Homo sapiens: one gene and its partners. The protein of the gene in region 1 purifies or fractionates together with the protein of each later gene. This does not show direct contact. Each region holds a gene or a part of one and is shown on either strand. Other genes may lie near its edges.

Region 1 (4,048 bases):
CCAGCCACGACAGGGTGCCTTCTGCCCCCTCCTGGTCCACACCAAGCCAGAAGCCCCCTGCAGTGGGGAGAGGAGGAGTGGGGAAGGGTGAGGAAGAGGGATGAGGACGAGGAGGAAGAAGGACAGAGGATCAGACACCAAATTTCACAGACTGAGTATTGCGGCCCTCCCCGTTCCTCCCCAGGCCTCCCTCCAATAAGCACAGCCAGAGTCTCCACTGCAGGCAAAGCACTCCACATGAACTATGGGAGCCGCCCAGGGCAAGAAAACCTCCTCTGGCAGCTTATCTGCTAGCAGAGGAGAAAGACATTAAAACAAATCTTCCCAGTTACTTCTTTAATTACAATTGTAAGAATTGTAATGAGGTCCATAAAGTAGTACAAGGTGCTGTGAGAGCCTGTAAGTGGGCGACTGTGCTGGCCTGGGGCATCTGAAAATAACAGTTGAACTGAGTTCTGAAGAATGAGTGCCACTTAGTGGTTAATGTGATTTAAGGTGACCCTGCGTAAATGACTTCCAGTGTCTAAGCCTTGGCTGCTTCTTGCATGGAATGGGAGCCTATGATGTCATCATGGGGCACATTAAGTTAGAATCTCTTGTGTCATTTGGGGCAGTGACTCTGAGACTCTCATCTTGTGTCACTTCCTGCTCAAAGAGCTTCCGTGGCTCCCCACTTCTGCCATGAGGACTACACTCCTTGGCGTGGCAGGCGGGGGTGCAGGCCCTTCCTCTGTCCTATGGTCGCCCCAGCTTCCCTGCTCGTCTCCCTGCTTCTCACCCTGGGCCTCAGTGTCCTTGTTCATGTCCTGTGCCAGAAACACCCTCCTCCTTTCTGGGGGATTCTACTCATCTGTCAAGGTCAAAGTTGGCTTCTCCTGGGGAATCCTTTCCTGATAATCCCAGAACCTGGACTCTTACTGCCTCGCTTTCCTGCAAAGCCCCTTGCCTGCTCTGGGCTGCTGGGCCCCTGCCCATGGTGACAGTCTGGTCTTTTTAGCCAGATCCCATGCTCCCAGAAGCCAGGGGCTGAACAATGCATGTTATACTTCCTGCCACAGCATCTGGCAACACGGGGCAGTGGGGAAAGTTTTGGGGTCAGAGGGATTTAGCCTCCAATCAGGCTCTGCAATTTAGAAGCTGAGTGGCCTGGGAGAAGTTACTTAACCACTCTGAGCTCTCTGGGTCACCTCCCTGTCCTCCACTCCAGCCAATCTACTCTCCACCTTGCAACTGATATGATCATCCTGAAGTCCAGATCGGTCCAGGCTGTGCCCTGGTGTGAAGCCTCTCTGTGGCTCTCCACTGCCTTCAGGAGAAATTCCACTCACTCACCACAGCTCTTAGGACCTGCACCACGTGGAGTCGGCCTGACTGGGCAGCCTTGTGTCTGGTGAGTCTTGCTGTGGCCCAGCCATGAAGAAGTGCACGTGCTCTTCCTTCTATCTAGAATGTTCTGTCCCTACTTCTTCCTCTAAACCCAGTTTCTAAACTTCCTCCAGAAGGCCTGCTTAGACTGCCCTGTCCCCGGGTCCCCTCCCTTGCCCAGAGCTCCCACAGCCCCTTTTATGCATGCCCCATCACAGCCCTTACTATGCTAGCGTAACTGTCACCACCATGCCCTCCAGGAGTGTAGGAGCTGAGGTTACCTTTTCCAAACTTGTATCCCCAAAGCCTGGCATGGTGCCTGGCATGTGTTTAGCCACCAATTACTAGTCGTGGAATGAATGAATGAAAGTTGTTATGGAGGTGGTTGTATTAAAGGAGACAGGATACTTCCTACATCATAGGCACTCAACACACAGCACTCTTCTCTTTTTCTCTTTGTTTTTTGAGACGGAGTCTCGCTGTGTCACCCTGGCTGGAGTACAGTGGTGCGATCTTGGCTCACTGCAACCTTCGCCTCCTGGGTTCAAGCGATTCTCGTGCCTCAGCCTCTTGAGTAGCTGGGATTACAGGGATGCGCCACCATGCCTGGCTAATTTTTGTATTTTCAGTAGAGAGGGGGCTTCACCATGTTGGCCAAGCTGGTCTTGAACTCTTGACCTCAGGTGATCTGCCCGCCTCAGCCTCCCCAAGTGCTGGGATTACAGGCATGAGCCACCATGCCCAGCCCAACCACAGAGCCCGACCCTCCTCTTTCTTGACAGAACCTTTGCACAAGGGGTACCCACAGACCTGCTGGGGGTAGGGTGAGGGGGGCAGAGGGCTGCACCACCCACTCACCTGCTTGGCTACAGCACCCCTAGCCCTCCTGGTGGTTACCTTCTGAGTCCAGAAGCAACTGCAACATCAATGTTCTAGAGCGACTCTTGCCCAGAAAGAACTTTTTTTTGAGACTGTGTCTTGCTCTGTCGCCCAGGCTGGAATGCAGTGGCGCGATCTTGGCTCAATGCAACTTCTGCCTCCCGGGTTCAAGCAATTATCCTGCCTCAGCCTCCCGAGTAGCTGGGATTACAGGCACATGCCACCACGCCCGGCTAATTTTTTGTATTTTTAGTAGAGACAGGGTTTCACCATGTTGGCCAGGCTGGTCTCGAACTACTGATCTCAGGTGATCCACCTGCCTCAGCCTCCCAAAGTGCTGGGATTACAGGCATGAGCCACTGTGCCTGGCCCAGAAGGAGCTTTGAAAGTTACTGTGTGACATGGGGGGCTAGGAGGGGAGGCCTAGAATAGTTGCCTGAGACTCGTCTTCCCCTACAAGGAGGAAGAAAGAGGAAACATTGCAGATAGGGAGCCAGGTCCTGGGCTGGCAGAGAGCGTCCACCTCCCTGGCCCCTGTCCCAGTCAGGCACGCCCGTGAATGCACCATTCTCAGAACCTCACCACTGGTTACTTGGATTACCTTTGGGATTTGGGCCCAGTTACCCTAGTGTCTTCACCTTCCTGCAAGCAAATTCTCCAACTAGGAGCCTCTACCCCTGAGGCCACTCCTGGCAGGGTCAGCAGGAATGAAGTAGAGAGCCCTGGGGCATCTGAGGAGGACAGGGAGGAGGGGAGGTACACCTGTTCCCTGGAGAGGGAAATGGAAGCAGGCTGGGAGAGTTCTGGCAGGGGGGGTCTTGCAGCTTCCCCTACTCTAACTGTGACCTTCTCCCTTCTCCCCTCTTGGACTTAGACCCAGCAGCCCTAGATCCAGCAGCTGCTCAACAAGGGGAAACATTTTCTAGGACAGGTGGCATGGGATGGGTCCCTTCCCCCACCAACCGGTGCATCTAGCCTGGGACCCTGAGCCATCAGCAAAGAATATGATATGTAGGCCAAATAAGATAAACTTTATAGCACCAGGAAAAACCAGCATAGGTTCAAATGAAGACCCCATTCCTAGATGACGCAGCCCTGGGAAGACTCGGAGGGAATGGGATGCTGGAGGCTCTCTAACGCAGCATGGGGCCCAGTAAAATATGGGCCCATCTAACCTGTGCTGTCCCATACCATAGCCCTCAGCCACATTTGGCTACTGAGCCCTTGAAATGTGGCTAGAAAATCAGGTTGTAACATCTGCAAATGAGGAAGTGAATGTTTAACATTTTGCTTAATTTTAACTAATTTAAATAAGTGGCCAATGGCTACTGCATTGAATACTGCAGTTCTAACCTCCAAGACGAGCAGAGGGGATAGAAGCACAGGCCTGGGAGTCTGGCCAATCTGGGTTTGCATCCCAGCCTGGCTGCTTGCTAGCTGTGTGGCCGTGGGCAAGTAATGTAACATCTCTGAGCCTCAGTTTCCTTGTTTGTATAGAGATGACCGCTGGTAGTGATGCCACAACCCAGGGGATCTCTGGGAGAACAAAGGAGATGCTATATGTGAAATAATTAGCATAATTTCCCCATCAATAATTATTATTTTCTGAGGGTCAAGTCCAGGAAGACAGCTGAGGCCTCTCAAAGCATATTGCTTGCTACTGTCTCAGGCGCTATCCTGAGCTGGCAGAGAGTGATGGTATATTTATTAAAAGACGTATTGTCCTCTACTAAGAGCACTGGCTGGGAAATCAGGACACCTGAGCTCTTGAGAAACAATAAAGTACAGTGGTCGGGCATGTGAA
Region 2 (6,592 bases), on another chromosome or scaffold:
CTGCTCCTCGCCCTGCTGACCTTTCAACAAGTGTCTGCAGCTGTCCGAGCCCCTCTGCCTGGCCTCCTAGGGCCAACAGTCAGATAGGGCCACTCCTCTCCAGGGCCCAGGGTACTCAGAAGCTAAAACCATGAGGCCTCTGGTGCACAGTGATGACTCTAGAATGGCTGGTTTGGGCCCACAGGCCTGGCACAGCCCCTGCTCACACCTTGATCATCTGGGCCACGTAGCTCTCAGGGCCCGTGTAGTCGGTCTTGTTCTTCACGCGGACCAGCACAATGAAGTACAAGTAGTTCCACATGTTGTGCTCCAGCTTGATGTGTTCCTCAAATGACACTGTCTTGTTATCAAACTTGTCCCTCTCCAGACCTGAGGGTGCAGAGGGCGGGAATGAAACCATCAGCCTTCAAGAGCCACTGCAGGGTCACCTGCTGGAGGGGACCCAGCTTCCGGGGGTTGGAGGCATTTGTTCTCGGGATGAGCGCTTCCAACAGCTCGCTCTGGGCTATTTGGGTCACTTCTATTTAAAGCAGCAGCCACTTAGTGGAGATCCTGCCCTGCCGCAGCTGCAGCCCTCCCGCAGCAGCAACCGAGGACTCCAGGAGTAAACGCGAGAATTTCTCGAACTCAGGGGAAGCCCGAATGGCTGAATGAGCGAGGTCCTACAGGCCATACAGGTGACACCTGCCTGAGCCCGAGGTGGCTGGTGAGGGGACTAGCACTTCATTTCAGGGGTAGGAAAAGCACTGGACTGAGACCAGAAGCTCCAGACACTGACTGGGCTCATGTCCTCACCTAGAAACCCCAAGGGTTTACAGGGATGGGCCTGTCCCACTCCTTTCTGACTCCAAGTTCAGGCAGGGTCATGTTCTCCCCAGTTCTGGGATGAGCAAATGCATCAAGTCATCAGCTCCGGGCCAGGGTTCCCCAGGGCAGGAAGGGCCAAACCGCTACTGCCACTGGCATCAGATGACGTTCCAGCCCCGCTGCGGCCTCCACAGAGCAGGAAGCAGCCCTCACCACAGATGAAGCATGTCGTCTTAAGAATCTCCTCCTTCTTCTGCTTCTCACTACGCAGGTCAGCGAAGGTGTCGATGATTACCCCAAAGATGAGGTTCAGCACAATGATGATGACGATGAAGAAGAACAGGAGGTCATAGACCACTCGGGCTGGGAAGAGAGACTCCTGCAGGGGATGAGGCAGGGAGGCTGGGCCCGGTGGTCCCCACATTCACTGGGGCAAGATAGGACTCAGGTTGGGGCCAGGGCTGTGATATTGAGGACCCAGCCCCTAGCAGAAGGAAATGAGGGCCTCTGGCCTGGGGGCCATCAGATGGCAGAGTGGACCCAACCTGGCTCCACAGAGCAAGAATTGCAAGCAGAAGCCCTGAGTTTGGGTTAGGAAAGCGTGGACTCAGGACACGCCGGGGTGGAGGCCTGCAGAAGGAGTCTGGCGGGGAGGTAGGGCTACGAGTCTCGGTGTGTCTCTGCCCCTAACATTGATGAGGGAAAGAGGCAGCTCTGAACACCTCTGCCCACCCTCAGGACGCCTGGCCTCACACATTCCAGAAACCCTCTGTCTGGCCAGGGAGGCGGCCTCTCACTCCCAAGCAACAGGGGAAGGCCTGACATTCGGGAATGTGGCTGCCCAAGCCAAATCATGAGGCCTCCTGATAAAGCTGACTCAGCTCCGCCCTCTGCCCACCTGCTGTGGGCTAGGAAAGCCAGTGGTCACCATCCCTAGCCCTGGGGCAAAGTTTGGTTGCCAAAGTCTTTCCTTATGGAATGGGAGGGTGAGGGGGCAGCTAAGCAGTAATATCATGGAATTGGCCAGGTGTGGAAAGCAGGGAAAAGTGGATACAAGTTCGGGGGAGGGGGTTCAACCCTGAATATCTGACGCGAGGCCAAGGACAGGACTCTCCACAGTTGCTGATCTGGACAGTGGCTTGGGCCCCACAGGTTTGGGAGTGGGCAGGAGTGCTCACATCTTTGGAGGGCTTGCGGAGAATGTCGCCCACGCCACCACCGTTGCGTAGCCCATGGTTCATGACAGTGACGATGCACATCAACAGAGTGTCACAGGCCCGCTCTGTGCTGTCCAGCTCCCTGTCCTCTGCAAGCGGAGAGTGTGCTGAGGCCCGGGCTGCCTGCTCCTCCTACCCCACACAGACTCCTGCACACACACCACCCTCACCTTCCAGGACCTCAGGCACCGAGAGCCCTGAGACACAGTCCATCTTGTCCCCACTGCAGGTGTCCACAAATGCAGCAGCTCCATGTGGCATCCCCAGGGGGCTGGCTGGAGGGGATATGGATGAGATCATCAGGAGGTCCAGTGCCTGGCCTTATCCCCTGGCTCTGTCCCCAGTGTCACATCCTCCAGGAAACCTTCCCTGGTCCTGGATCGCCAGCCCTCCACTGTCCAGCCACAGTGAAGGGTCATCACGCTTCTGCCCCCGACTGGGTTGCACACTAAGGGCAGGGAGGGGTCTCTGTACCCCTAGGCCTGGCACACGGGCAGTTTCTGCAAATACTGGGTTTAACATGAATGACAGTTCAAGGGACTCCAGCCCTCAAGCAAGGGGTTCCTTAGGGGCCAGAGACCCAAGGCTCTCCCACCCACTCAGTGTGTTCCAGAAAAGAGCGAGGCAGACTGGTGTTAGCTAGACGTCCCCAGAAGCCAAGAGGAGAAGCAGACGGGAGCCTGGTGAGGTAAGCGCTGCAGGTCCTGGTCCTGACGCCAGACATTTGTGAGACCCAACCTCATTCCCCACAACCTGCCCAGGAGAGGAAGCCTCCAAGACCTGTGGAGTGGTTGTTGGGCAGCCGGTCGACCTCGAGAATGAAGTCATCCTTGAGGAAGAGGAAGCCGACGATGGAGAAGAGGTAGACCAGGATGAGGGCCAGCAGGGCTGTCAGCAGGATGGAGCGGCCATTGCGGGTCACACTCTTGATGACGTTGAACAGCGTCTCCTCGCGGTAGATGAGGTCAAAGAGCTGCAGGATGGGGTTGAGATAGGGATGGCACCTTGAGGGGCTGGGCCGGCCACTCTCACTGGGGCTGCCACTGGAACCCTGAGGGCTGCCTGGGCTCCAGACAGTTTCCCAAGGCTCCTCCAGGGAGGTCTGCACTTAGTCGTATCCAAGCTGGGTGGGCCTGTCAGGGGAGCTTCTCGAGAAACCTGGAATTCTAAGGTCACAGAAAGGGAGTGGCCCAGGGGAAGGCACGAGGGGTGAAACGGGTGGCTGAATACCAGCCAACTCTTAAAATGTACTTGCTGCATGCCAGGAAACAGTGTAAGTGCTTTCCATGCATTAGCTCATTTCATCTCACAATTATTTTAGAATGCAGGGGCTGTTGTTATCCCCATTTTACAGGTGAGGAAACTGAGGCATGGGGCAGTTAAGAAACTTGCCCAGTTACACAGCTAGTAGTAGCCCAGCTGAGATGCAAAGCCCTGGTCCAGCTCCAGAGTCCAGGCTTGAACCACCACTGTACAGGAGAAAGGGGTCAGATGGCCACCAGGAGTGGCCATCAGGGCCTTGAGGGCCAGGCTTGGGTCAGGCAGATGAAGACTCTGTAATTTCACTGCTCCCAGCCCAGCAGCAAAAGGACTGGACAGACAGACTGGTGCCGGGGAACTGCCAACAACTCATGGGAAGCCCCAACCACCCCATGCCCCCATCCAGCCCCAGCCCACCCAGAAGGCCTCACCAGGATGCTGTAGAACAGCTCATGAGCAAAGAGGCCCAGGACACTGGTCAGGATGTAGCCCACGTGGTAGAGGAATTCCATGTCCATGACCATGGCCTTATAGCCCCGGATGAAGGTGCCACGGTTGCCCACGAAGCTCACCACAAACACGATCTTGTTGGTCAGCTGGGGGCGAGTGCAAGGCATGAGAGTCAGCACCCTACCACCTATGCTGAATCTGCACGCATGTCCCCCAGTGCCCAGCTCAGAGCCTGGGAGGCATGGCATTAATGAAATTGCTTCCAGAAACGCATCTAGGCGCCTGGGACTCAGAATACAGAGGCAGCCCCTTGGGTCCTCAGTTCCAGGAAGACAGTGAGGTACAGGCAACGGAGGATGGGGACAGAGAAGACCACTGACTGGCTCTATCAGGGAAAGGTATTCCTCGCTCAAAGCACTTTATTTCCATCTGTCAGGAGATTGTCATTATGTATGAATCTTCACGTCTGCCGCGTAGCAGTGCCTCTGGGCAGTGCACAGCCCGCACAGTGTGCACAGCCACCCTGACCCTGTTGCTCCAAAGGGACTCTTGAATTTCTGTCTCTGAGTGCCAGCTGCCCTCAGGTGTTGAGGGAAAGGAAGAAGGTACAGAACAGTCCCTGCCACCGGTCTATAAGGAACTTGGGAGCCCAACAGAGAGGAGGGGATGGGACAGAGCAGTGGCTCCTGGAAGCAGCAGGCCAGCTTGCCGTCTGAATGCACAGTGAGCATGAGCTTGTTTGGGAATGGGGGCTCCCTCTGGCACTCACATTGAGGGCACCCAGGATGTTGAGTGTGGGCCCGATGCCCAGATAGTAGATGGAGCGCAGGATGAGCGCCACGATGAGGGGGCGGATGCTGTAGCGCTTGGTGAACAGGGCCGCGATGGAGAAGCAGATGAGGATCCAGAAGAGCAATGAGATGAGAGGGGAGTCCAGCACGCCTGGGGGCCAGGGGCAGGGTGAGCAGGGCTCCCTCAAGCCCACCACGGCCCCAGAGCAGGTCCAACAGGTGCCGAAAAGCCACCTTCTCCTGGCCGCCTTCCCGGTTAAGTTCCTGGTGCCTGGTTTTAGCCTCCTCCATTACACCTGCCTCTCAGGCCTAAGCGGGAGGCCCTGTCCGGCTGCGGCTACCAGGTTTTGTTTCTGGCTGACACATCTATGCGTGTGCACGTGCCTGCATGCGCCATCTCCCATGAGGTCAAAGACCCTGACCATCCCCTTTGACCGCACCTGTGTCTCCATGATGGGGCGAGAGCCCACAGGATGGCGCAGGGGGTGCTTCTGCACACTCTGCATCTGGTGCCCTCAGAGGCCAGCTGGCCTCAAGGCTCTGCCCCAACCCAGGGAGGAAGCATGGCAGGGCCCGGGGAACCTGCCGGCCAGCCCTGTGTTCTCACCTGTGGACGCGCCCTCCATGTAAGGGTAGAAGAAGGCAATGATGATGTTGATAAACACGGCCAGGTTGAAGGAGATGCTGCCCCACAGGGTCATGCGGCGGGAGAACCAGTAGATCAGCGGCATGCCTGAAGAGGAGGGCAACGGTGAGCTGCTGGAGGGCCCTGGTGAGCACCCCCTGCCCCTTGCATGTGGGGCCCCGCTCAGGAGGAAGCCACACATGGAAGAGCCCTTCCTTGGGGTGAGGCGGGGTTGGGCGCAGGGCACCCACAGGCAGGCAAAGGAGGCCGTTATAACAGGGCATCAGTGAACAGCTCCAGACCGCCCCACCCTCCCGCCCGTGGGTCCTCACTGCGGAGCTTGCGCTGCCACTCCATCTCGTTGTGCAGGAAGGAGGACTGGTCGAAGAAGTCGCTCACTTTGCTGCCCTGCTCGTCCTGCTCAGTAGTGGTGAAGAGCCGGTGCTTGGTTTCCTCCGTCAGGAACTGGCAGATGCCGGGCACTGGGAACACGATCTGCTCCATGCTGCGGTCCTGCCGCACAATCTGAGCACACACAGCACATGGTCACGCCCGGCGCAGGCTCCCACGCCCGCCCCTGCTGCCCACAGGCCCACCTCGATCTGGGACGTGTGGTTCTCATAGTAGGCCAGGGGGTCTTCCTCCTCCTCCTGTGCTGGCGCTGAGGACTTGAGCATCTGTGACAGCTGCTTGTTGTTGAGGCTGAGCTGGAGGTGGGGAGGGCGCGGAGGTCAGGCCCCAGCCTCCACATCCAGGCTGGCACTCAGCCCCCACCCTCCCAGGCCTTCGCCTAGCTCTGAACTACACTTCAGCGAGTGTCCCCGCCAAGCCAGAGCAGGCCAAGCCCAGCCCAACTAGGACTGAGCCTTGAGAACCTGGTGCCAAAGGGAGGGGAGTGGGAGAGCCATGACCAGAGAATCCCAGAGGATAGCGGGGGCCTCCTCAGTCCTGCCCAAGTGTAGCCCGGGTCCTGCTTGAAGCTTCCAGACCCACCCTAGACCCACCTGAGCCTTGCTTCCATTTCTGTCTGGGTTTCACCCACGGCTGCCAGTCCCAATCAGCCCCCTGAGCTGTACCCCCAAATTCTAGCCTGGCTCATATTCTAGGGCCTCACTCTGTTCCAGGCCACGCCCTTGGGTCAAGTGTCCTCCCTGGGTTCCAGGCCCCACCCCCACCCCAGTCTCGGGGCCAGCACCCACCATGGAAGAGATACCCTCGGCCTCCTCCTCTTGAATGCGCTTCACCGGCTTCAGCAGGTGCTGCAGCTGTTTATTGTGCCTGGAGAGCTGAGGGAAATGGCAGCACAGTCACCAGGGTGTGGTGGCTGGGGGACATGGTGGCTGGGGGGCGACAATGGCGACTGGGGGATGATGGCAGCTGGGGCGGGGTATGGTGGCCAGGGGGGTGATGGCCGTTGCCACGGGTGGAACTGGTACCTGCAG
Region 3 (8,532 bases), on another chromosome or scaffold:
TCAATGTATGGTCTCAGTTTCTAAACCCCAACTGATTTCTGCAATATGCTACAGAAAACAGAAGAACCTGAAGGCACAAGAATCACAATATGTAAATGCAAGCAAATTTGATTCAAGCATTTATTAAGCTACAACGCAATTTTTCAAATTTGGCCATTTCTATTCTTAGATCTTCCAAACTATAGCTCGCTCCTTCCTTCACTCCTTCTTTCGCTCCTTTCTTCCTTCGCTACTTCCTTCCTTCCTTCCTCCCTCCCTCCCTTCCTCTCTTCCTTCCCTTCCTTCCCTCCCTCCTTTCTCTCTCTCTCTTTCGAGACGGAGTCTCGCTCTGTCGCCCAGGCTGGAATGCAATGGCGCAATCTCAGCTCACTGCAAGCTCCACCTCCTGGGTTCAGGCCATTCTCCGCCTCAGCCTCCCAAGTAGCTGGGACCACAGGTGCCTGCCACCACACCCGGCTAATTTTGTTTTTGTATTTTTTTTTCTGAGATGGAGTCTCGCCCTGTTGCCCAGGCTGGAGTGCAGTGGCATGAACTCGGCTCTCTCCTGTCTCAGCCTCCCGAGTTGCTGGGACTACAGGCACCCGCCACCATGCCTGGCTAATTTTTTGTATTTTTTAGTAGAGATGGGGTTTCACTGTGTTACCCAGGATGGTCTTGATCTCCTGACCTCGTGATCTGCCCGCCTCAGCCTCCCAAAATGCTGGGATTACAGGCGTGAGCCACCACGCCTGGCCCCTGTTTTTGTATTTTTAGTACAGATGGGGTTTCACCATGTTAGCCAGGATGGTCTCGATCTCCTGGCTTTGTGATCCACCTGCCTCGGCCTCCCAAAGTGCTGGGATTACAGGCGTGAGCCACCGTGCCCGGCCTTTTTCTTTTTTTGAGATGGAGTTTCACTCTTGTCACCCAGGCTGGAGTGCAATGGCGCAATCTTGGCTCACTGCAACCTCCACCTCCCGGGTTCAAGTGATTCTCCTGCCTCAGCCTCCTGAGTAGCTGGGATTACAGGCGTGTGCAACCATGCCCAGCTAATGTTGTATTTTTAGTAGAGATGGGGTTTCACCATGTTAGCCGGGCTGGTCTTAAACTCCTGACCTTGGATGATCTGCCTGCCTTGGCCTCCCAAAGTGCTGGGATTACAGGTGTGAGCCACCGAGCCCGGCCCACATAATCTTTTAAACAGTATGCCTGGAAAATGTCACATTAATTTTTTTTATTTTACCTGACCTATCAAAATATGGTCACTAAAAGCCTATTTTTGTTTCTTCCATGTGACTTTCTTATCTACTTCAACTGTTTTAACTGTTTGTGACTATATAAACTTCATGCAAAACCATTCATGCACCATAGGCTCCCATATATACAATATGTAAAAATTTGATTTACAAAGCAAAATTTAATCATCTTAATGATTAGCAAATGAGCTTAAATTGACTTAGTAATTGCACAATAGATATTGTACTTAGCCAGTTTTACATGCTGTACTAGGAGGAACACTGGTCTGCAGTATGAGGCAATAAAAGAAGTACTCATTTTCCAGTCCCAATTTTGTCCCCTATAAGCAACCGGATCTTGAAAAAATCCCCTTAACTTTCTGGATGTTCAGTCACTCTACCAATATTTGAATACCCAGTATGAGCCAGACATTGTTTTAGGCACTAAAATGAATAGGACCAGCTCTTTCCATAAAAGTAAACATTCATCTAAACTAAAAACAACTTGACCATGTAATGAGAGATGCTGAGAATATTTTGGAGGGGACAGAGAAGGGACATCTGGGGCGGGGAAGAGAAGTGGGGCGGAAGTTCTGCAAAACATGAGAATGGATAAGCTAGAGCTCATTAGGTAAAAGGGGTAGGAATAAAGGACCCTCCCTTCCCATGCCAGGCAAAAGTAACAGACGGAACAAAGTAAAATTCTTCAGGGAGTAGGAGGAAAACTGAAAGTAGTTTGGTGTTACACATGCTATCAGAATGCTAGTAGATGAAGCTACAGAGGTAGGCAGAAACCGTATTATATAAAGCTTAGAAGTTATCCACAGACAAGAGGGAACCACAGAAAGATTTAAATAAGCAAAATTTACATGTCAGGATAATTACTCTGATGAGATAAGGACACATGCAACATGGATTGATCGGAGAGACTATTGTAGTCATACAGAAAGGGCTGGAACCAGAGCTGTAATTAGTAGGGAAGAAGAAGATGGGATGAATTTGAGAAATACTGAGGAAACAGAATCAGCAGACTGGTAATTCAATGGCTGTAGGAGGTAAGGCAGAAGGATGAATCACAGAGGAAAGGCCATGTGAGGACACAGCAAGAAGGCAGCTGTCTGTAAGCCAGGAAGAGAGCCCTCACCAGACACTGAATCTGCTAGCACCTTGATCTTGGACTTCCCAGGCTCTAGAGCTGTGAGAAATAAACTTCTGTTATTTAAGCCACCAGTCTGTGGTATTTTGTTATGGCAGCCTGTTTTAGTCTGCTCAGACTGCAAAAGCCAACCTCTTGCTATGTCATCACCAGACCTGTCCTCTGTGTGAAGGAGAGGGAGGGAGCAAGTGCAAGCTAACTGAATCTTCTTATAAGGACACTAATCCTATCAGATCAGCACTCTACCTTTATGACCTCACTTAACCTTAATTACTTCCTTAGAGGTCCCATCTCCAAATACAGCCATGTGTAGGGGGGTAGGGCTTCAACATATGAATTTGACAAACATTCAGTCCATAACAGCTGCCAATGCTGAGGAGTTAAATGTAATTTACTACCCTAAGTATTTTCTCTGGACGCTCCACTTTTCCTAGCTCATAGGGAGAAATTAATCTGATAGCTAAAGATTTTATAGCTAAATAGTTCTGTAGTATAAAATTAGTTGGATTGTCAGCACGGCCTTCCAAGGAGAAATTTAAGATTTATGTTGCTGTACTTTCTCAACAATTCCTGAAAGTTTTTCAAAACAAAAAGCATTAGGAGCTAGACACAGTGGCTCACATCTGTAATCCCAGCTACTTGAGAGTGGGCCAGTGGCCTAGTGAGACTAGGAGTTTGAGACTGGCCTGGGTGACACAGTGACACTCCCCTAGCTCTAAAAAAGTTTTTTAAAACTTAGCAGATTATTTGAAGTGAGTTGGTGGAAGGGGGGTAAAAAAACACAAAAACCCTTAGCTGGGCATGGTGGTGTGCGCCTGTAGTCCTAGCTACTCAGAAGGCTGAGGCAGGAGGACTGCTTGTGCCTGGGAGTTCAAGGCTGCAGTGAGCCATGATCATGCCACTGCACTCCAGCCTGGGTGACAAAGCAAGACCCTGACACTTTAAAAAAAAAAAAGTAATAATAAACAACTGAAACTGAAATCCTTCGTAATTTTGCAGGTTACTAGTTCTGAAATAAAGTGTCTAGAATCACAAACATGGAAAGGTCATGTTTTAAATTATTTTTTCCTAAGAGCCACTTATGAAGTGAGTTTAGTTTAGACTGTATTTTTTTTTTCTGACACAGGGTCTCACTCTGTTGCCCAGGTTGGAGTGCAGTGGCACACTCACAGCTCACTGCAGCCTCGACCTCCACCGTTCAAGCAATCCTCCCCGCCTCAGTCTCCTGAGTAGCTGGGACTACAAGTGCACACCACCATGCACAACTAATTTTTGTATTTTCTGTAGAGATGGGGTTTCGCCATGTTGTCCAGGCTGGTCTCGAACTCCTGGACTCAAGCGATCCACCCACCTCAGCCTCCCAAAGTGCTGGAATTACAGGCATGCGCCACCGTGTCTGGCCTAGACTATTTCTTACTACAATCCTTAAAAGGTAATGGATATACTTTAAAAAATCAAGGAAAGTGGCCAGGCGTGGTGGCTCACGCCTGTAATCCCAGCACATTGGGAGGCCGAGGCGGGTGGATCACCTGAGGTCAGGAGTTCCAGACCAGCCTGGCCAACATGGTGAAACCCCGTCTCTACTAAAAATACAAAACTTAGCTGGGCATGGTGGTGGGCGCCTGTAATTCCAGCTACTTGGGAGGCTGAGGCAGGAGAATCGCTTGAACCCAGGAGGCAGAGTTGCAGTGAGCCGAGATCGCACCACTGCACTGCAGCGTGGAAGACAAGAGCCAAATTCTGTCTCAAAAAAAAAAAAAAAAATCAAAGAAAAATTTCAAGAGTTGTAATTCGTCTGATATCAATTTAATGTCCTACAGCTATTAAACCAAGTTAAGCATTATTTTCCTAACAGAAAACAAAAATGAACATCTTATTATCTTACTAAGCGGCAATACAAATTTTTCATTAAAATTCATCTCCACAGTTAAATTTCCATAATGATAATGTGAGATAAAATAATGGGATTTGTTAATTCCAATGAAAATCCAGTCTGAATAGAAGTAAAAAGATTCAGGAGTATAAGAAGCACTATATATGTACCAGGCACCATACTAAGTGCTCTATAATCATTCACTCAATCCATAAAAACCCCATAAGGGTTGTGTACTATAATTATCTCTGTTTTATACTTGAGAAAATTGAGGCACACAGAGACTATATAACTTGTCCAAGGACACACTGTGAGTCCATATATATATATATATATATATATATATGTATATACACATATATGAGTCCATATATATGTATATACGCATATATATGCGTGTATATATATACACACACATATATACACATATATACACACATATATACACATATACACATATATGTGTGTATATATATACACACACACATGTGTGTATGTACACACACACATGTGTGTATATACACACACACATATGTGTGTATATACACACACACATATATGTGTGTATATATACACACACACATATATATAGTGTGATCGATATAGATATATATATGTAAAGAGAGATATGCCTGTTTATGAACTCTCTATTCCATTGATTTGTGCATCTAGTAAGCAATTGTTTTGTATATGTATGTATATATATACACACATATATATGGTGTATGTGTATATACATACATACATACATACATATACATATAGTGCAGTGAACCGAGATCGCGCCACTGTACTCCAACCTGGCGACACAGCAAGACTCCGTCTCAGAAAAAGAAAAAAAATTCCTAGATGTGAAACCAAAAACACAATCCACAAAAGAAAAAGTGAGTGGAAATTGGACTTTTACTCAAATTGAAAATGTTTGCTCTTCAAAAGACACTCTTAAGAGAAGGCAAGTTATTAACTGGGAAAAAAGTATTTGCAAAACATATATATAACAGGGGACTTGTATCCAGGACATATAAAGAGCTCTGAAAAACTCAATAATAAGAAAACAAATAACCCAATAAAAAAATGGGCAAATGATTTGAATAAACATTTTACCAAAGATATATGGATGGCAAATAAGTACATGAAAAATGCTCAACATTTAGGTAAATACAAGTCATTTGGGAAATGCAAGTTAAACTACAATGAAACATCACTACACACCTATTAGAATGGCTAAACATTTTTTTTTAAAGCTAGGCGAGGTGCAGTAGCTCACAGCTGTAATGCCAGCACTTTGGGAGGCCAAGGTGGGACGATCGCTTGAAGCCAGGAGTTTCAGACCAGCCTGAGCAACACAGCCAGACCTTGTCTCTACAAAAAATAAAAATATTAGCCGAGTGTGGTGGCAGACACATGTAGTGTAGTCCTAGCTACTTGGGAGGCTGAAGTGGGAAGATTGCTGGAGCCCAGGCAGTCCAGGCTGCAGTGAGCCATGATCATGCCACTGTACTCCAACCTGGGAGACTGAGCAGACCCTGTCTCTTAAAAACAAATTAACCTGACAATACCAAGCAAGTGATGTGAGGATGCAGAGCAACTGTATCTCTCATATACTGCTGGTAGGCAAAATGGCATAGCCACTTTGAAAAATAGTTTGGCAGTTTCTTTTTTAAATTTTTAATTAATTTTTTTTTTATAGAGACAGGGTCTTGCTCTGTTGCCCACACTGGAGTGCAGTGGTGCAATCAGAGCTCACTGCAGCTTCAAACTCCTGGGCTCAAGCAATCCTCCTGTCTCAGCCTCCCAAGTAGCTGGGACTACAGGCATATGCCACTCTGCCTGGCTATGTTTATCCATTTTGTAGAGGTGGGGTCTCACTATGTTGCCCAAGCGGGTCTTGAACTCCTGGCCTCAAGCGATCCTTCTGCCTTCACCTCCCAAAGTGCTGTGATTACAGGTGTGAGCCACTGACCTGGCAGTTTTTTGTAAAGTTTAATAAACAATTTCCATATGATCAGCAATCCCACTCATGAGTATTTACCCAAGTGAAATGAAAACTTATGTTCACTCAAAAACCTGTACACAAATATTTATGGTAGCTTTATTCATAATTACCAAAATTGGAAACAACCCAAATGTCCTTTAACTGATGAATGGATAAACAAACTGTGATATATCCATACAACGGAATACCACTCAGCAATTAAAAAGGAACTCCCGGCTGGGTGTGGTGGTTCATGCCTGTAATTCCAGCACTTTGGGAGGCCAAGGTGGGCGGATCACCTGAGCTCAGGAGTGCAAGACCAGCCTGGGCAACGTGTTGAAACCCCATCTCTACCAAAAAGATACAAAAAATTAGCTGAGTATGGTGGCACTCGCCTGTTGTCTCCACTACTTGGGAGGCTGAGATGGGAGATCACTTGAGCCCCGGAGGCTGAGGCTGCAGTGCGCCAAGATTGTGCCACTGCATTCCAGCCTGGGTGACACAGTGAGACCCCATCTCAAAAAAAAAAACTCTTGATACATGCAACAACATGGATAAATCTTAAATGCATTATGGTTAAGTGAAAGAAGCCAGACTCAAAAGGTTACGTATTGTATGATTCCATGTATATGACATTCTCAAAAAGACAAAACTATAGGGATAGAAAACTTATCAGGAGCTGGGAGTGGGGCTGACTACAAAGGAGCAAACTGACTATACAAAGGAAGAACTTTTGGGGGCGATGGAACCATTTTATATCTTGATTGGTGATAGCTCCACAACTGTATTTATTTGTCAAAACTCATAGAACCGTACACTTAACAAGGGTAAATTTTACTGTATATAAATTACACTTCAATTAAAACAAATACTTAAAGTTTAAACATTGTTAAGTCAGCTTCAGGGCTAGATAGCTATGTAGCTGAGAGGTTATTTCACAAATGAAAACATTAGTGCCACATAATTATAGAACTAATAGTGCTGAAATATAAATTCTTAATCTCAATGACTTTGAAACATAATAAGAAAATGAACAGGACAAATAGTTTCTCTCAATAATAATATAAAACTTATGATCTTAGTCAATATACACACCTCCCAGAAGACAGATCCACTATCTTTGCTATTAAATTGTGTTCTGGGCATGCAAAGCTAAAGGGTAGCCTCTGTGACACTATGGTTTGAGTTTTCCTGTGACTTAACCCAAGTGACACCTACATCATCATTGCTACTGTCAATACTGTCAGTAGGCTTTTAGCCTATTTGGAATTTATACAAGTAAAAAATGTACTAAGCTTTTATGAACAGACACTTCTCAAAAGAAGACATTTATGCAAGCCAACAGACACATGAAAAAATATTCATCATCCCTGGCCATCAGAGAAATGCAAATCAAAACCACAGTGAGATAACCATCTCACACCAGTTAGAATGGCGATCATTAAAAAGTCAGGAAACAACAGGTGCTGGAGAGGAGGTGGAGAAATAGGAACACTTTTACACTGTTGGTGAGACTGTAAACTAGTTCAACCATTGTGGAAGACGGTGTGGCGATTCCTCAAGGATCTAGAACTAGAAATACCATTTGACCCAGCCATCCCATTACTGGGTATATACCCAAAGGATTATAAATCATGCTGCTATAAAGACACATGCACATGTATGTTTATTGCGGCACTATTCACAATAGGAAAGACTTGGAACCAACCCAAATGTCCATCAATGATAGACTGGATTAAGAAAATGTGGCACATAAACACCATGGAATACTATGCAGCCATAAAAAAGAATGAGTTCATGTCCTTTGTAGGGACATGGATGAAGCTGGAAACCATAATTCTCAGCAAACTATAGCAAGGACAAAAAACCAAACACTGCATGTTCTCACTCATAGGTGGGAATTGAACAATGAGAACACTTGGACACAGGAAGGGGAACATCACACACCGGGGCCTGTCGTGGGGTTGGGGGAGGGGGGAGGGATAGCATTAGGAGATATACCTAATGTAAATGACAAGTTAATGGGTACAGCACACCAACATGGCACATGCATACATATGTAACAAACCTGCACGTTGTGCATATGTACCCTACAACTTAAAGTATAATAAAAAAATTTTTTTAAATAAAAAAAATGTACTAAGCTTTGTAGAGTACCAGGGTCAAAAATATATTTTTTAAATGATTGTTTTAATAAAAGGGGCTATGAAAAATTCAACTCATATCCTATGTATCTAATGATCTTAACCACGACCTTGCTATTTCAGCTTTCTGATACCTTTTCTTTTTTGATGCTTCATTCTTAAAACTTCTA
Region 4 (8,071 bases), on another chromosome or scaffold:
CCTCAGGGTGGGGGGGTTGGGTGATTGGCAACCGCTTCCATTTTCTCCAGTGTGCTATACAAATATTAGCATTTTCTACGTGTGCCATGACATGAAAAATGTTGTGCAGCACTGCAAGGAGCCAGATTTTTTGCCCACATTGTTTTCAAACTTAAAATATAAGAATTTCCATTTGGTTTAGATCTATGGCCCCATCAATACAAAATTCTGTCCCTTATGAGCAACATCTTATAGATCTGCCCTGACCTGGAAAGATCCCACAGTATGTTGTTTAAATTTAAAATTTTATTAGTTCTAAAATTAAAAAATAAGATATACTAAATTACATCCTAGAGAAACTGGGTTATTGATTGGTATAATCCGAGTTGTCAGGCAAGGCTTTATTTTTTAAAAAATCAGGAGTACACATTGCAAGTCAGGGGTAAAGAATTATGACCAAAACCAAAAAGGTAACTTCTCTTTTATTGCCTGAATCACAACAAAATGTATGTGGGTTAGGAGGTTGGCCAGACCTCCAGACTGAGGTGGTTGCCTGAAACCAAAGGAGCTGACAACCAGATTTCACCCAGTTTTCTATACATCAGTTCTTCCAGAATTTAGCATAAAGATTTATTCTCCAGCCGGGCACGGTGCCTCACGCCTGTAATCCCAATACTTTGGGAGGCCGAGGCGGGCAGATGACGAGGTCAGGAGATCAAGACCATCATGGCTAGCATGGTGAAACCCCATCTCTAGTAAAAATACAAAAAATTAGCTGAGTGTGGTGGCGGGCGCCTGTAGTCCCAGCTACTCAGGAGGCTGAGGCAGGAGAATGGCGTGAACCCAGGAGGTGGAGCTTGCAGTGAGCCGAGATCGCACCACTGCACTCCAGCCTGGGTGACAGAGCAGGACTCCATCTGAAACAAACAAAAAAAAAAGATTTCTTCTCCAAAAGGAAGTCTAACTCCTTCTCCAGCCTCTTTCAACTAGTAGTAATTCCTCACGCTCCAGAATAATCAGATTTTCCTGTCCTGCCATAGAGAGGAAAGGGAATCAGTCTCCTTCTTGGTTTTTGTGGGATTGTTTTAAGATGTACACTAATGATAAACCAACTTTTCTACCTCTGGGGTAAGTGAATGCAACTTTGCCCTGGTGTCTTGTGGCTAAAAATAATCCAGCTATAGTCTCCAAGACAGCAAGAATCTGGATGAATGGCTGTCGCACCAGAGAGAGCAAGCTGGTCTTGGTCTTGGATCTGGATGAATGGTCTTGGTGTTGAATCTGGATGAATGGCTGTGGCACCAGAGAGAGCAAGCTGGTCTGTTCTCATTCAGAGGAACTCTTAGCTGCATAATTTCAGATTTGAATGTCTTAGAGTTCATCTCCAGCTGATCTGTATTATTATCCGATTAACTTTTCTTATCACAGCAGGTCTATGTAAAGAAAATACAGCTATTCCTCAACTTGCGATAGGGTTATATCTCAGTAAACCCCTTGTAAATTGGAAACATTGTTAGTCAAAAATACATTTATTACACCCAACTTACCAAGCATCGCAGCTTAGCCTAGCCTTCCTTAAACATGCTCAGAACACTTATGTTAGCCTACAGTTAGGCAGAATCATCTAACACAAGCCTATTTTATTAAAAAGTTGTGAATGGCTCATGTAATTTATTGAATACTATACTGAAAGTGAAAAAAGTGCCCATTGTATGGGCACTCAAAGTACAGTTTCTACTGAATGCATGTTGCTTTCACACCACCATAAAGTCAAAAAATCGTAGTCAAGCCATCCTAAATCAGAGACCATTTATAATACTTCCTCTGTAACCATTGCAGTTTCTCAAGTGTCAGAACAGAATTTATTATTCTTGAAAATGTTTTTCATCATCTGGAAACATGGTGCTCTTTAGGGTTTACAGCAGTTTTGGGAAAAAATGAAAACATGGTGCTCTTAAACTTATTACATTTGGACATATATTTTGAGGGTTTCTTTTCAATAATGGTGATGGATTTGTGCAGATACATCTGCTGCTTGAACATGTTTTTTCTACTTATCAAATGCAGGTAATTCTGAAACTACTGAAGTAAGGGTGCAGTTAGTTAAAAAAAAGTAGACAATTTACAACAGTCATTAGACTGCTTTTGATGTTGTGTCATCTGTCTATATTGAGGACATATAGAATTTGTCACCACTTACTATAGGGATGTGGTGGTTTGCTATGTTAAACAGTCCCCTCTTTAAGAAATAGACAAGACTATTGTAGCAGGCAAGTGCTTTTTTTATTTTATGGATGCTGTTTAGTACCTTTTGGGACTGACTGCTAGGAAACTTAGAGTCAGATTTGCTGTCATACTCTAAGAATTGCATAGGATCTTATATCATTCTATCATTATTTAGTTTTTGTTATTCATTTATTTTTTGATCTATCATTAATGCGTTTTGGAATGAGGCAGGCTTTTATGGAAATACTCTCACAATTCTGATCTCATTAACACCAGATTTTTAGCTGACTGTACTACATGTCTACTGCTATGGAAAAGATTCTTAGTTTGGATATATTCCTTTTAGTACCATTAGTGGTCGTTGCAGTTAGCCACTTTTTGCAGGTATGTGTGCTAAGCCTTTAAAATCTTTGTTTTTCACAGGTCATAGAGAAGAGATACTTTTTAAGAGAAGGTAATCAGGTTGGTATCTCTTTTCTTGATAAAATAGATTCTTAAATTTTGATAGGTGATTTCCAAATTTAAGTTCAGAAGTAGTTTTAAAAAGTTGGGGAAAGCCCTTTATAGGCACAAGCAACTGATTTCCTTCTATCCTGTTAAATACAAAAGGAGAAAATCAGAACAAAGGGAAAATAAGGATCTAGGAAACAAATATAATCTAGGAATAAGATTACATTATAAAATAGAAGAAGAAAATAATTTGCTTGGGACTCCAAGAGTATACGTTCAGGGTCTGTCACAATACAAATAATTTCTATAAAAGTCTAGTAGGTATTATGAGATTTACCTTCATTCTTTCTGATTTAGATGACACTATCACCAATTTGTTGGGAAATGTTTTCCATTTGGGTAAGATTTATTTTTATTATTTAATCTGTGGTTTTCTGAGTAAAACCTCAGAAAGTTGTTTTTTTAAGAAACAGCAGGCTGACATACAGAAATGGAAAAGAAGGGAAAAATTACTATTAGTATTTGAACTTTTATTGCTTGAGACTTAATGCAATTATCTTTCTTGCCTACAGATTCCAGGCTTTCCTGATCGGAAAAGATTTGGGGCAGGAACATTAAAGAGCCTTCATTATGACTGAATTACACTCATCCTTTGGAAGAGTGAGCAAGCAGTGGCAGTTTTTCACAGCTCATCTTGCTGTGTTCAATTATTACCATCACAGCCTTTTAACAAAATCATCTTAAAATGCTACCCTTCAGCCTTACCCTTTAATGGAAAAATGAAAGGAAGTGACAATACGGGAGGTCCAAACTTTGTCCCTGTTCTCTGTGTTCCTTACCTTTCTGTCCCTGTGTATAGATTATGTAAAAGCCTTGTGTAAATATGAGATGTTGTCAAAATGATGCAGTAAATGAGCAATGACAGTGTACTGCAGAGAAAATTTACTCTTGCCTAGAACTGGAGGGTTTTTATGGGTCTGTAATTTTCCCACACTCATTGCTGAAAGCTTAATTAAGTACTTCAAAAACGTATCTCCATTGTTTTACCTTCTTGAGGGGAACGGTCTTGTTAACCAGCCCTGAGTTGTCTACCCCAAACAATCTCTGTCATTTTCAAAGATGCAAAATGGTGTTATTTAATTGTCTCCACCATTGTCACACACAGGAATGCCTAATAATAGCAACCCTTGTCTCCCTCTTCTCTCCTTTGCAAATGGCTCAGTGACTGGAAGAGGCGGACTAATAGCCAGAGTTAAATATAAATACAAATTAATAATACATAGAGAACAGCAATACCAGAAAAAAAGAATTCTGGTAAAATGATGTGAAAAATTGACAGCTCCCTCACTCTTAAGGTTGCTGCTATATACAGTCTAGGTTTTCTGTTTGGAAATAGGTAGGGTAAAATCTAAGACCTGCACAAGGGCAGTGAGAGACATTTACAGCCTCCTCTCTATTTGTTTTTTTAAGGAAAAGTCAACTCCTGAAATGTCCCTTAGCTATAATCAGAAAACTAAGAATATTATTCTGTGTCAACAATGTATTTATGGAGAGAAGTAAAAATAAGTTCCACAGCAACACATTTACATGAATTATGAACTAGGATTCTTGGATTTCATAATCACTCCAAAGCTTTTTGGGGATGGTGTGTGTGTGTGTGTGTGTCCGTAATTGTTCATCATTACTTTTTTTAACCTATCTTTTTGCTTGCTTAATCTTCTCTGCCCCAGTTCTTCCTGAGTATATGAATTTGATTTCTAAAAACAATTTATTCAACACTCTATCACCCGTATTCTCTCTCTGGCTCTGCTGCAGGTCTCTGCACTCCTGATTTTGCTCCATACTTTTAAATAACAATAATAAATATACAGTTTTCATTTCTCATTTAAAAAATAGGTGGAAAACACCAAATTCACTTTCTGTTCCATTTTAATTAGGTTTCAGAAGTATCTTGGAAATCAAGGTATGCTGCAAGAGGATATTAAAATAAGAATGTTAGAGAGTCCTTTTAGAAAGGCAGTCTTGGGAATTTGGAAAAGGATTTTTAAAGCAGCTTTCATCAGCTAGACTGTTCTCCAGCCTTTCTTTACTTCCTCTTTGAAAGGACATAGCCCTGGTTTCTTTTTGACACAAAGGAAAGCTATGCAAATCATGATCTGTATGTAGAATTGGTCACAAGTATGTTGTTGCATAGGCTGTACAGTTGGGAAGTAGAAACCAAATGCTACCCAGAGACCTAACCCAATTAAGCTCTTTGTATTTCTCCTTCAAGAAATAAATCTTCCTTCCTTCTTTCTTCCTCTTTCTTTTAATTTTAAAAAAATTCATCCTGATTTTTTTATTTTCTATCTTATTTAAAAAATAAAAATAGGCCAGGCGCGGTGGCTCACACCTTTAATCCCAACACTTTGGGAGGCGGGTCGATCACTTGATATCAGGAGTTTGAGACCAGCCTGGCCAACATAGGGAAACCCTGTCTCTACTAAAAATACAAAAATTAGCCAGGCCTGGTGGCACGCGCCTGTAATCCCAGCTACTTGGGAGGCTGAGGCAGGAGAATCACTTGAACCTGGGAGGTGGAGGTTGCAGTGAGTCAAGATCGTGTCACTGCACTCCAGCCTAGGTGACAGAGTGAGACTCCAACTAAAAGAAAATAAATAAATAAATATATAAATATATAAATAAATAATAAAAGTAAACTATTGCTGATGACTCCAGGGTCAATCTGGAAAAATTAACAGTATTCCTCAACTCCATTACTTTCTGCAGCCAAGCTTGATTCCTTGAATTATAGTTTTCTAAGAAAAAATAGTTTTTAATAATCTAAGGTAAATTTGTTGCAATTATTAGCAGCAGCATAATAAGGCTTTTTGCGCAAATGAATGTTATTAGCTAGAGTTATTCAAAAAAGAATGAAGCACAATTTTTGCTAGGACTTCTTGAGAACTATTCATAAAAATGCTTTTAGATAATAAACAAGTATAAATGTCAAAATATTTTTTTAAAAGTATAATTGGCCAGGTGCTGGCTCACGCCTATAATCCCAGCACTCTAGGAGACTGAGGCAGGAGGATCACTTGAGCTCGGGAGTTTGAGGCTGCAGTGATTCATGATTGCACCACTGCCTTCCAGCAGCCTGATGACAGAGTGGGACTCCATCTCTTTACATATGTATATCTTACTCTCTTGATGGGACAAGTTGGTAGAAATAAAGATTTTTTTTTTCTGTTGTGATTTCGGTGTCTGACCAATTTTCTGACTCATTGTGAAGGTGACCAGATATGAAGGCATATATATGACTACTCCTCTGTCCCTTAGGTGTATAAGACTTAGCTGGAATCCAACTAAAGATTTGGGCTGGTCTCTCCATCTTAACGTTGATGGGATTCAGGACACATAACCCCAAAATATTGCACCCTGTTATTTGAGAAAACTGCAGAAGCAAGGTTTCTCATACCTTCCCCTTACCCCTTCTCCCCTGAAGCAGGCCATAAACCCTAAGTGACTGTTCCCTGAAGTAGATCATAAAACCTTCATTCCATAGGTACCCTTTATCCTCACAGATACAGAGACACCAAGAAGAATCTGGACAAATAGGACTTGCTAAGTTCTCCACAGTTTATTACCATTAGATTATGTCCTTTTGTCCTCTGATTATACTTCTGCATAAGACTGTACATAAAAATACACAAGTTTTCCTATTTCTTTTTTGTCTTCATTTCTGAAGATTCCTGTCATGTAAAACTTACAGTAAATAAATGTGTGTGCTTTTCTCAATAATCTGTCTTTCGTTATAGGTGCCTCATTTGTGAACCTAGTGATGGGTGAAGAAAGAAAGCTCTTCTCCGCTACAGTGCTCTAAGAAAAGCTATTCCCAAAAGAGTTGATCCATATTAGCTTTAGCTCGGGTTCTTAGAATTCCTCAAACTTGAGGCATTCATGATATAATCCAGGTGCCCTGACACTTGTTTTTCTGTTCATTCTGACATGGACTTCATGGAAATGATGTGCAGGGACATCAGACTGAGGTGAAGAGCTCCTAATTGCTCCTTGTAATCAGAGTTTCTGAGTCCTCATTTCAATAGTTTGCAGTAGCACCCACCATAGGTAGGACCTTGTATGGGTTACTAGATGGTGGCTTAATTGAATTTTTTAAAGCACAGGTGACATCATATTTTAAGAAGTTTAAAGGTCTAACAGGGTGTCTGCATTGGTTTAATATATGTTAAAATTCAAAGGAGGAGTCTGTTTTGGGGAAAGGAGGAGAAGGAAATTAGAAATTCATTTCTCCGCAGTCCCAAGACTGAGCTAAATCACTGTGGTGGGAGAGGAAGGGTCGCAGGAAGTCTAACCCTGTGTCTCAAATATTTCACAACATGTTTGCCTACACAAAATATCTGATGTTAGGGTCAGCTGGGGCTGCTCCATAGCATAGTAAAGGAATTGGACATCCAGTTACAATTAATCTGCACCTCCATTAAGGACTCACATGGAGGGCTTTCAAACTCTGAAGTGTGTAAGAATCCCCTGAAGTGCTTGCTGAAAATGCAGATTCCACGATTTCCTCTCTCTTCCCTTACTCTCCCCTTTCTATATGTATAGGATAAGGCCAGGATTTTGTATTTTTAACAGACAAGCCAGATTTTTCTCATGCAGATAAGTCAGGATCTAGCCTTTAAGAAAGACAAATAAACTCATCAAAAAGTAGGGAATATAGATTGTGAACTCTGTACTTTATGAGTGCCATTATAGCAGAATTCATCAAAGCGCATCTTTGACTGCCTCAACCTGATCTCACCTTAATGAACTGATCCACTCCTCCCCACTCAAAGCTACATATGCCAAATTAAACATGAGATGATTGTCATGTCTTCTGTTGGCAAAACAAGTATTTGTCTTTCATGTATTGCTATCATTTTTATTACTGCCACTGTTTTTCCCCTGGGTTCTGTTTTTAATCCAAATATATTTATTTCTAACCAGTGCCTTGCCATCTTACACACAGCCCCCTCTCTAGTACTGTGTTTTCTCAGCTGGCTAATCACTAAGCTTTACCGAGGTCATCAATAACTAATGACAAAGAATGGAACCCCTAAACTCCAACCAAGGTGTAAAACCTCGCTCAGTACCATCAAGTATATCAGGTAATCTCTCCGTTCCATCTTTTTCTCGGAGACATCTGTCCTGGAGTCCTCTGATGCCTAACTCCGTTTTGGAGTGATTACTCTGTAGACCTGTCACACCCTGCTTCACATTACCTTGTAGCAATTCCTGGATGTAATGTTTTCCACTTTCTATCCAACTCTTACTCTATGGGACTTGGCTCAGACATAGTCTTCTCTGGGAAGCCCTCCCTGGCTCTGCTCGTCTGGGCTACGTGCCCACTAGTGCTTCCCCTAGATCCCTGGGCTCTTTC

Evidence for each region.
Region 2: the proteins of SLC35C1 (region 1) and ITPR3 purify together in Homo sapiens (affinity purification with mass spectrometry; one large-scale study listed by BioGRID and IntAct). This does not show direct contact.
Region 3: the proteins of SLC35C1 (region 1) and RP2 purify together in Homo sapiens (affinity purification with mass spectrometry; one large-scale study listed by BioGRID and IntAct). This does not show direct contact.
Region 4: the proteins of SLC35C1 (region 1) and RABL3 purify together in Homo sapiens (affinity purification with mass spectrometry; one large-scale study listed by BioGRID and IntAct). This does not show direct contact.

What each region holds. Positions count from the first base shown.
Region 1 is NC_000011.10:45,806,785-45,810,832, reverse strand, and holds part of SLC35C1 (GDP-fucose transporter 1), read right to left. Parts: intron 2,698-4,048; coding exon of another isoform or gene 2,654-2,697; exon of another isoform or gene 2,291-2,653; coding exon of another isoform or gene 2,263-2,290; intron 58-2,262; coding exon 1-57. UniProt on the Homo sapiens protein: Antiporter specific for GDP-l-fucose and depending on the concomitant reverse transport of GMP. Involved in GDP-fucose import from the cytoplasm into the Golgi lumen.
Region 2 is NC_000006.12:33,687,322-33,693,913, reverse strand, and holds part of ITPR3 (inositol 1,4,5-trisphosphate-gated calcium channel ITPR3), read right to left. Parts: coding exon 6,587-6,592; intron 6,437-6,586; coding exon 6,350-6,436; intron 5,858-6,349; coding exon 5,747-5,857; intron 5,676-5,746; coding exon 5,483-5,675; intron 5,259-5,482; coding exon 5,133-5,258; intron 4,677-5,132; coding exon 4,504-4,676; intron 3,881-4,503; coding exon 3,716-3,880; intron 2,998-3,715; coding exon 2,805-2,997; intron 2,300-2,804; coding exon 2,195-2,299; intron 2,114-2,194; coding exon 1,986-2,113; intron 1,187-1,985; coding exon 1,021-1,186; intron 370-1,020; coding exon 209-369; intron 1-208.
Region 3 is NC_000023.11:46,843,987-46,852,518, reverse strand, and holds part of RP2 (protein XRP2), read right to left. Parts: intron 1-8,532. UniProt on the Homo sapiens protein: Acts as a GTPase-activating protein (GAP) involved in trafficking between the Golgi and the ciliary membrane.
Region 4 is NC_000003.12:120,685,045-120,693,115, reverse strand, and holds part of RABL3 (rab-like protein 3), read left to right. Parts: intron 1-2,628; coding exon 2,629-2,667; intron 2,668-3,012; coding exon of another isoform or gene 3,013-3,054; intron 3,055-3,227; coding exon 3,228-3,293; 3' UTR 3,294-8,071. UniProt on the Homo sapiens protein: Required for KRAS signaling regulation and modulation of cell proliferation. Regulator of KRAS prenylation, and probably prenylation of other small GTPases. Required for lymphocyte development and function. Not required for myeloid cell development.